3 linked regions of the Homo sapiens genome follow. The protein of the gene in region 3 purifies or fractionates together with the protein of the main gene of each other region. This does not show direct contact. Each region holds a gene or a part of one and is shown on either strand. Other genes may lie near its edges.

Region 1 (3,655 bases), on a different chromosome or scaffold from region 3:
TGAGCCATTGCACCTGGCTGAAGAGTTTATTTTTTAATCTATCAAAACCAGGGAGTTACCTGTTTGTATGGTGAGTCCACATCAACATTTAACAGACAACAGTCACTGTGTTATTGAGTGGTGAATATAAAAGCTTCCTACTTATGTAGGCTCACATACATACAATGTCTCACTGACTACTTCTAAATTATCATTAGTATTTTCCAGAGAAAAGGAAGATTAAAAATTAAGTTATATTTATTTTGTTCTGAGTGCTGTTTTGGGGATGATTTCTTCTAAGTTTCCCACTCACTTTTCAAAACCTTTTGGGAAACTAATGCCCAAGAATACAGCTAATAAGTGACAAAGCTAGAAATGAGGTCAAGCCACAAAAACCATGCTTTTCCCATTAAACCATTCTGAAGCAAGCATAAGAAAAAACTGTCTTGAGTCTGTTTTCTTTTATTTTTAGAGACAGGATCTCTCTGGACTTGAACTGCTGGGCTCAAGCAATCCTCCCACCTCAGCCTCCCAAGTAGCTGGGACTACAGTGATTCTCTTTTCTAATATTATTTACTACATTTAACAACCATGCAACAGGAATCTTAACCAAGTCTCCAACTTGTTCATCCAATGTAATCCCAGGGTTTTAGTAGTATTGATAAAGTCTGATGACATCTTATTTTTGATGATGTGCTGGCATATAAATATTTATCAGTGAGCACTCACCATTCCCTAACGATCGAGTCTGTTCACAACTTCTCGAACTGTAGCTATGAAGTTTTCATTGTCTTGGGGATTAGCTAAAATAATACTGTGCAGTCTGTTCATATATGAGTCAATGGTGTCCACTGTAGGTGTCTCTCCACTTCCTGAAGTGAGATAAGAAGAAAGTAAGAAAATCCTCCCTATTCAGTTGTACCATAAAACACAATTTCAAAGAAACAGTGATTCTAATGTGGTCTGCTCCACAGACATGCTTTTAATTTTAGAGGAGAGACTTTTAGATCTCAAAGAAATGAAATTAGTCCACATACTCTAAATAAACAGATGGGCTATATAATTGCTGTATAGTATATATGAGCAGCTGCATGTAACAGAAGGTTAGACTCGCTCAGCTTTCTGCTATGACTATCTTCAAAATGAAAGAGTATATAAGAAATACCAGTGTTCATTCTCCCTTCCTTCCCGTTAAAACAAAAACAACTAAAAAGCAAACAAACATACATAAGAAGAAACACTCTCAAGATTTACTACTCAGTTTCCAGTGTTCTGAATAGCAAATTAAGCTTAAAAGAGGGGAAAATAGATATTAAAATATAAATGGACAAAAATTTGAATGACCAGAGAGCCTGAAACATTGGACGATTTTAGCCAATACTGACATTCTATTATATCCAGAGAAGAAAAAATGTAGTTTAATTAATTTTCCTCTGGAGGAGATTTCAATCTCTCCACACCAGTACTAACATAAACAGCACCCCACTCCACACAACACACACACCCCTGTCACTGACAGTTCTCAGGCAGGAGGACTTACCAGGCAAGGGCATGCTGGCAAAGCTGCTGGTCAGCACCTGCCGCAGGGTCTCCAGGTGCTGCTGTAAGACTGTGTTGCGGCTCCGCTCCTGGATCACATCCACCTCCAGCTTCTCCACTGCTGTGCGCATGCTCTCCACGTGCTTTTGCAGGGCTGCATTCCTCTCCTCAAACTCCATGTTGGATTTGCGAAGCTGGCGGAGCTCTGCTTCCCGAGCTGAGGACATACATCCCACAGAACACATGCAGCACTAGAAGGAGTCTCTGAGGAGTCCCAATGACTCTTACAGGGAAGTTCTGCTTAGCTGCCTCTAATTTAGCTACCCCACCTCATCTCCCTATTCTCATTATGGCATTCCAGATAGCAATTTCAGCAATGAAACGCCTGACTCCCCAGAGCTATTTTAATTCTTAAAGCTAGTCACATTCCATACATAAGATTGCAACAAACAGTTTCAATTCCCAGTATTTTTTTGTTTGTTAGTTTTTGCTTTTTAAATTGTACAATCAGAAGCCTGAGGGGTTTTGCAGGGGGATCCTGGGAGACTGGCCAAGCACAGCTGTAGGTACCCATCTTTACCACAATGGGATCAGACTTGCTCTTACTTATTTTATATTTTGGACTCCCATGTAAGTTTTTATTTGTGCAAGGGGTTCCAGGCTAAGAGTTTGAAGACAAGTGAATTTGTGATTTGCATTTATTTCCTTTCATCCAGAGACCAAAGAAGCTTTGACAACAATGCCCTAGCTTTCCTTCACTGGTCTTTGAGTAGTCCTAAGGAGGGATAACACTACCATTGCTTTTGAGCAATGAATTTCTTCTGAGAACTAAGTCCCCTGTCAAAAATCTGAGAAACACAAAAAGAAACTTCAGTAATCACCTTTGCTATGGTTCAAGAATTCCTCTGTAAATATAGGGATGTCAAAAACAGACCGTTCCTTTACCTCTGTTTCTTTCTGTGAATCAAGAGGAACAAAACAGTTAATTCTTAATAGAAGATAAATTAAATAATAGTGCCTGAAGACAATGATCATGTCTTCTTTAAAGAAAGAATAGGGTGAGCAGGAATCAGTCCAGGTGAGTCTGTGAGGGAAATGTATTCATCTTTTCATTGGAATCCAACTTTCACAGAGCTTAAGCAGGTAAAGTATTCACTTCTCTCAGGTATACAACTACTGTGCAATTAGAAACCTTAAAACAAAGTTACGTAAATTTCCCTAATGGAGAATTTGAAGCCATTTCTTAGCCTTGTGTTTTGAATAGTCAACAGTATACAGTTGTGAAAGTGATTGCAGTGGGAATTGAGAAAGAGTAGTTTTTTTTCAGTCACTTTTGTTGGTTATGCATGTAAAATGCTCCCTGAGATAAGATTATGCAATATAAATTTGCAGAGTGGACAATAAGAATTTTAAGCAGAAATGTAACTGCTATGAGCAATAATTATGATATTCCATTGGTACTTCTATTTACTTAAGAGAGGCAGCCTATCTTTGGGGTCTTTTAGATTTTCTTTAGACACAGGAAAAATAAACAAACAAACACATGAGACCGAGAAATCAGAAATAACCAGGCTCTAAAAATTAGAAAGCAAACGATTATGTGAGATACAAAAGAATAACAAAGCCTAAAATTAATTCACCAATAAGCCATTAAAAATAAAAAAGCCTCACAAGATCATTGCAAAATATATTCCACAATGATCTTTAAGAATAAAGTCAATAACTCAAGATGCTTTGGCTGTCGTTTCTAAAATGAATTTGAAGTTGAAAGCATTGTGAATATTAATTTTAAGTGTGTTGGCATAATGTTCAAAATTTTCCATAACAAAGGTGGTAAAATGGCAGGAAGTGAGAAATGAAGAAACTGCTAGTGAAATCTTAAGATCCCAGGACCTTTATAACATGAAAAACATGCAAACATAATACCTAGATTTCATTCCTATAAACAATTGTTTAAAGCTAGACAGAATGTATCTTTCCTACTCTTGTCACCACTAGCTTTTTTTTTTTTTTTTTTTTTTTTTTCTGAGAGGGAGTCCCTCTCTGTTGCCCAGGGTGGAGTACAGTGGCACGATCTCAGCTCACTGCAACCTCTGTCTCCCAGGTTCAAGCAATTCTCCTGCCTCAGCCTCCCAAG
Region 2 (3,755 bases), on a different chromosome or scaffold from region 3:
GTATGTGCTTGTGGTCCCAGATACTTGGGAGGCTGAGGCAAGAGAATCACTTGAACCTGGGAGGTGAAGGTTGCAGTGAGCTAAGATTGCACCACTGCACTCCAGCCTGGGTGACGGAACAAGATTCTGTCTCAAAAATAAATAAATAAATAAATAAATAATAAAACAGCATTCTGTTCTGTGGTTCACTTCAATTCCTCCTAAAAGAACCAGCTGCATGCCTGCTCAGGCTCAGCTCACTGGACGCTTGTGTTGTGGAGGGTGACCTAAAGCAGAATCTCTGAAAAAGAGCATCAACAAAGACTTACCACGGGACAAATAAATGGCTGCCATTCTCTGAAGCTGATGGTGTGATGATGTGCATCCCTTCCTTGATGCCAAGATCACCTCAGGCCAGCTTATGAATCTAGGTGGATAGAGGCAATCTCCATTCCTCTTTGTACAGGGTTATTTGCGGTCCTGTTCATATCAATCATCAAACAACAAGCATGAAACATCAGTCATCAAACATTATGCCTGAGCTTTGTCTCTGCAGGTGACAGATGTGAAGGCCACCAAAAATTGCCCACTCAGTACCGTCACTCAGTAACAAAAGTATTAATAACAGTAACTGACATTTACTGAGGACTGATATGTCAGAAGTAGCTCTAGTAGCTTTATATATACATGCTCAGTTAATTATCATAGCCATCCTTCCCAGTAGCTATCATTACCTCTATCTATCTATATCTATCTATATTTATCTATCTATATCTATCTATCTATATATCTATCTATATCTATCTATCTATATCTATCCTATCTATCTATCTATCTATCTATCGAGACAGGGTCTCACTCTGTTGCCCAGGTTGAAATCCAATGGCACTAACACAACTCTCTGTAGCCTAGACTTCCCGGGCTCAAGTGATCCTCCCACTTCAGCCTCCTGAATAGCTGGGACCATAGGTGCGTATCATCACTCATTATTATTATTATTATTTTGAGACAGAGTCTCACTCTGTTGCCCAGGCTGGAATGCAGTGGCATGATCTCAACTCATTGCAACCTCTGCCTCCCAGGTGCAAGCGATTATCAGGCCTCAGCCTCCCGAGTAGCTGGGATTTCAGGTATGCACTACCATGCCTGGCTAATTTTTGCATTTTTAGTAGAGACGCAGTTTCGCCATATTGGCCAGGCTGGTCTTGAACTCCTGGCCTTAAGTGATTCTCCCACTTCAGCCCCCCAACTAGCTGGGACTACAGGTGCACACCACTGGGTCCGGCTAATTTTTTGTAGTTTTAGTAGAGACAAGTTTTCACCAGATTGCCTAGGCTAGTCTCAAACTCCTGGGCTCAAACAATCCTCCTGACTTGGCCTCCCAAAGTGCTGGGATAATAAGCATAAGCCACGATGCCTGGCCCATTACTTCTATTTAATACTGAAAAAAACCTACACTCAAACAACCCTAGTAGTCGGTCTGATACTTGTCCCTAGAGCCTGATCTCCTGTATATGGTGTTACCCCCCCGCCATATGACCAGAAGACAGTGCAGACCTGCACAGAACAATTCAGTAGTCACCAGCCACGTGTGTTATTGATAACTTCATTACGTACCTAAGATGACTTAAGAACAAAATCTAAAATTTTCAAAAGTCGGCCGGGTGCAGTGGCTCACACCTATAATCCCAGCACTTTGGGGGACCGAGGCAGACAGATCACCTAAGGTCAGGAGTTCAAGACCAGCCTGGCCAACATGGCAAAACCATCTCTACTAAAGATAGAAAAAGTAGCCGGGCGTGGTGGCACTTGCCTGTAATCCCAGGTACTCGGAAGGCTGAGGCAGGAGAACTGCTTGACCCTGGAGGCAGAGGTTGCAGAGGTTGCAGTGAGCCGAGAGAGCGCGCAGCCTCTCCGAACTGGACGCACAGGGAGGACTGATAGTCCCTGGAGAAGCGAGTGAAGTGAAGCGGATCTGAGAGGCTCCTAGGCGACAGCGCGCAATCATTCCTTTGCCGCCCCCTGCTATCCCCGGGACCGCCAAGGAGGTGGAACTCACCACAGCCTGGGCAGACTCCACCACCATAAAGGCGAAACCGCACTGACGGAGAGGAGCCAGCGCCGGAAAAGATGGCGGTGGTGCGCTGACGTCACTTCCGCTTCAACACTCTGGCCGGGCGAGGCTCGTGGGCTCCAGTTTCAGCCACGTAGGACCGGGTAGAACACAGAAATTCTAGTTTCCTCTCGGGTGGGTGCAGAAAGGGCCTGGGGTTGGCTCAGGGAGGGGGATGCAGAACTAGGTCCAGAGAAAAAGGTGAGGTTAGAACCGGGCCTCCAGACGGAACTGTGGGCGAGGGGAGGGGCTCGTACTCGGGGGGTGATTTAGAGGAGGGACCCGGCCTAGCCGGTGGTTCAGGTGGCCGGTCGGGCTGGAAGGGCGGGGATGAGGGATGGGACGCATCCCCGGGGGATGCTCCTCCAAAGCTTTTATCGGGCGAGCGCAGTGGCTCACGCCTGTAATTCCTGCACTTTGGGAGGCTAAGGTAGGTAAATAGCTTGAGTCTGCTGGGAATGGGTGCTCGCTTGGTGTCACAAAATCAACACTGAGACAAAGGATCTCAGCAAGGCTAGTTTTACTTTCTGCAGAATGGGTGCCACTGGCTGGCAGTCTTGCCACCAGAGCACACATTAACAAAGGAGACAGGGTTTTTTTAAACTTGAAGTGTCCATCCTTCTGCTGTGTCCAGCTTCCATTGGCTGGAACGGGACCTCACCTTCCTGTACTTCACTGGATTGGCTAGCAACTTAGAACTTCCCAAAAGAGGCAATGGCAGAGGAGAACAAAGGAAGAGAGGAAGTAACTTGTGGACTGTTGAGAGAGGCAAAAACACTTCTAAATAGGGAAAGGAATAGGCCATGACCTAATAGTTGCTTGGACCAGTTCAGGCATGCCAGGGCAAATATCTAGGCTAAAATGTGGGAGCTAAAAACAGAGTCTATTGATTTCTTTATTACGGCTGGCAGAATTTAACAATATTACCACAGGTCTTTGAGAAAATTTGGCTTCTAAGAGGGATTACTATTTATTTCAATCAGACTGGGAGGAAAGTCCCTTTGAAGAGGAACCTGTATTTATTTCATTTTCTACAAGTCCAAGAGTTTGAGACCAGCCTGGGCAAAGTAGCAAGACCCTGTCTCTCTCTCTCTCTCTCTCTCTATATATATATATATAAACATATATGTATAAATACATATAAATATATAAATATATAAAAAATATATAAATATACATGTTCAAAATGCTTGTTCCCTGGTGCCATAAAGAAATTAGCACTTGAACATAAATTTAATTTACTCAGCAAGGCCATTTTTACTTCCTGCAGAAACGGTATACTCACCAGCAGTTTTGCCACGAGAGTACACCAAACAAAGGAGATAGGGTCATTTATAACCTGATGCTTCCAACCTACTGCTGTGTCCAGTTTCCACTGGCTGGAATGGGACCTCACGTTCTGGCTAGCAACTTATAACTTTTTAAAAGAGGCAAGGGTAGAGGAGAACAAAGGAAGGAGGAAGTAACTTGTGGAATGCTGAGAAGGGTCAAAACATCTTCAAATAAGGAAAAAGAACAGGCTATGCCCTAATGCTTGCCTGGACCAGTACAAGCATGCCAGGGCAAATATGTAGACTAAACTGTGGGAGCTAAGAATATAAAGTACATTGATTTCTTTATCACGGCTCACAGATACTTGAGAATGTTAGCACAGGTCTTTGAA
Region 3 (2,601 bases):
TTCACCATGTTGGCCAGGCTGGCCTCGAACTCCTGACCTCAGGCGATCCACCAGCCTCAGCCTCCCAAAGTGCTGGGATTACAGGCGTGAGCCACCACGCCCGGCACTCACAGGTCTTTTTCATCATTCAAATGTTACATAAGATGGGTATAATGATACCTATGTATAATGATACCTCTACCCATCTTAGTTATTTCACAGAAATATAAGAACAGAGGTAGTAGATATTAAAGTGCTTTGAAAGGCACAAGCACTAGGAAGATTAAAGTTTGCTACTAGGTAGTCTGGGACAGAGAGAAAGACCCTAGAAGTCTTTCCCAGTTTCTTGGCCCTTACCAATGGCTCTGGAGAGGTTGAGGCCCCCGTTGACTCGCCCATCCATGGTGACCTTGCCACCAGCATTCTTGATGCGTGCTAGTTCTACTTCATCCTCTGGTTTGTGATCATAGGACATGTCTAAAGCTTTGCCAGCCTCAGATACCACACAGCGAGAGTCTCCTGCGTTGGCTACAATCAACTGCTTCCCTCGTATCAGGGCCACCACCGCTGTTGTACCACTGTCAGAGCCAGGCTTAAGAGGAAGAAAAGGAGCATCATGGGGGCTTCTGAACATGCGTTCCTCACTGATGTGCTCCTGATCGTTCACCTATGCTTGCTTTCACTGGGACCCCCAAAAGAGCTTTAACAAACAGGAGAAGCACACATTTCATCTTTCTAGAGACAGCAGCACACTCCCTCTCCCTTGTTTTTAGATAATTCAACCCCAAAGGCTTACCATCTCATTCCCCTTGCAGAATAAATCCCCATGACTATTACTTCCATCCTAAAGTATCAGGGGGATCCCCTGTCTCAAAATCAAAATTAGGGGATTCACACCTGCCTTGTGGCTTTTCAAGACTCATTGCTCCCCTTCCCCACACACCTCCTCTTTGCCTTCCATCCCTGGCACCATCATCTCTTCTTCTTCTTCTTCATCGTCCTCTTCAGCCTCCTCGGTGTCATCCTCATCTTCCTCATTCTCTGCCTCCTCACTGCTGTAGCCATCCTCTTCCTCGCTGCATTCCTGCCAGGGGGAGGATCCCAGACTGCTGAGACTGGGATGATCCCCTCCCTCCCCACAGCTCATACTCAGAATCAAGAGGTCCTGACTGAACACAGGTCCTCAAAACACTGAAAGATACAAGTATATGGTCATGAAAATTGGGGGGATGGAAAGGGCTAGCATGAGTACAACTGACATCCTGAACTGGGCTTAGCAGTCACTAGCAAAAAGCCCAGGACAAGGCAAGGGCTGCCAGCCAAAAATATCTTTCAGGCACTGTGGCCAGAAAATAAATTTTCCAGAGAAGAAAACAGTCAACTAGCCAAGGTAACAACTATCTCCTTGTTCTCTCTCTAGGAGACAGACTCTGAAAAGCCAGAACTAGATCTGCTTGTTATAGTACCAACAAAGGAAGAGGTAAAAAGGCAAATGGTACCTGTGATGATGGAGCTCAATGAATTCAAGACTAAAGCTTAGAATACAGTGGGTCTTGGGGGATGATGTCAAAATAGGAGAAGGAAAGAGAGTTGAAAACTACAGACGGCAACCAAACAGGACCTCTCTGCAACTTCAGCATCTGCCTGCCCTCACAGGCCCTTACCTCACTGTCTTCCTCTTCTTCCTCCGCCTCATCTGACTCATCCTCACTGTCCTCAAAGAACTTGGACTTAGCAACTCGAGGCAGCTTGTCAGAGGCTGAAGAGCAGGAAGGCCCAGCCTCACCAGTGGGAATGCCAGGCTCACCAACTTGGCCTGCCTCAGTCCCACGTTCCGAGTTGGAGGAAAAGCCTGTGTAGGCCTTGGCTGTGGGGCCATTTTCTTGTGAAGGAGTTTCCCTAGTTGAGTCCTCAGGTCCTGCCTCCCCATTGAGGCCCTGGGACCCTGGTTCCTCGCCTGTCCCACCTCCAGATTTGCTGTGGGGAGGGCCCTTGTGACAGTTCTGCCCGTAGCGTGTCAGCAGCTCTTCAATAGTCATGGTAGCCTCTTCATGCAGCAGTGCAGCCTCCTCATTGTCCACTGCAGGGAAGAGGCTAAATCAGAGCCCCCATGCCAGACTCCTCATGGGATCCGTCCCTCTCACTACCTCAACAGCCCTTGCAGCCTCTAACTTCCCCACAACCTCCCACTCCCAAGGTTCCTCTCGCTCAAGTCTCAGAAGAACATGCCCTAGCTCCTCCTCCTCCACAGACTTCTTTTGGTTTTTGTGTTTCATCCCCTTCTTAATCAAAACAACACTAGTTACTATACTTCCCCTCTGACGTCTCATTTTTTATTGTTAAGTTGTAAAAACCCTATTCTGGCTGAGGATCCAGGAAGCCCACAATGCTACTGTGAATTAGGATTTAGGCTTAATGATTGGCTATTGGGGCTAATAACTGCTCCAGTCTTGAGGGGAAAAAAAAGCACATAAATACTAGCAGGAACCAGGAAGACCCCATCACAATGACAAAAGATAATGTATATACAATGCTTACAGCTCAGATGCCACTCAACGAAGATAATTCTCTCCCTCCTTTTCATAACCACATACAATGCAGGAGAACATCATAGGTTTCTTT

The links.
Region 1: the proteins of PPM1G (region 3) and HMG20A purify together in Homo sapiens (affinity purification with mass spectrometry, with the first as the bait; one large-scale study listed by BioGRID). This does not show direct contact.
Region 2: the proteins of PPM1G (region 3) and ZNF561 purify together in Homo sapiens (co-immunoprecipitation; one large-scale study listed by IntAct). This does not show direct contact.

The regions. Positions count from the first base shown.
Region 1 is NC_000015.10:77,476,375-77,480,029, reverse strand, and holds part of HMG20A (high mobility group protein 20A), read right to left. Parts: intron 2,476-3,655; coding exon 2,400-2,475; intron 1,736-2,399; coding exon 1,520-1,735; intron 852-1,519; coding exon 715-851; 3' UTR 709-714; exon of another isoform or gene 1-708. UniProt on the Homo sapiens protein: Plays a role in neuronal differentiation as chromatin-associated protein. Acts as inhibitor of HMG20B. Overcomes the repressive effects of the neuronal silencer REST and induces the activation of neuronal-specific genes.
Region 2 is NC_000019.10:9,619,124-9,622,878, forward strand, and holds the start of ZNF561 (zinc finger protein 561), read right to left. Parts: upstream 2,110-3,755; 5' UTR 2,039-2,109; exon of another isoform or gene 1,793-2,038; intron 460-1,792; 5' UTR 365-459; coding exon of another isoform or gene 334-364; coding exon 309-333; intron 1-308. UniProt on the Homo sapiens protein: May be involved in transcriptional regulation.
Region 3 is NC_000002.12:27,383,030-27,385,630, forward strand, and holds part of PPM1G (protein phosphatase 1G), read right to left. Parts: intron 2,060-2,601; coding exon 1,644-2,059; intron 1,064-1,643; coding exon 923-1,063; intron 572-922; coding exon 337-571; intron 1-336.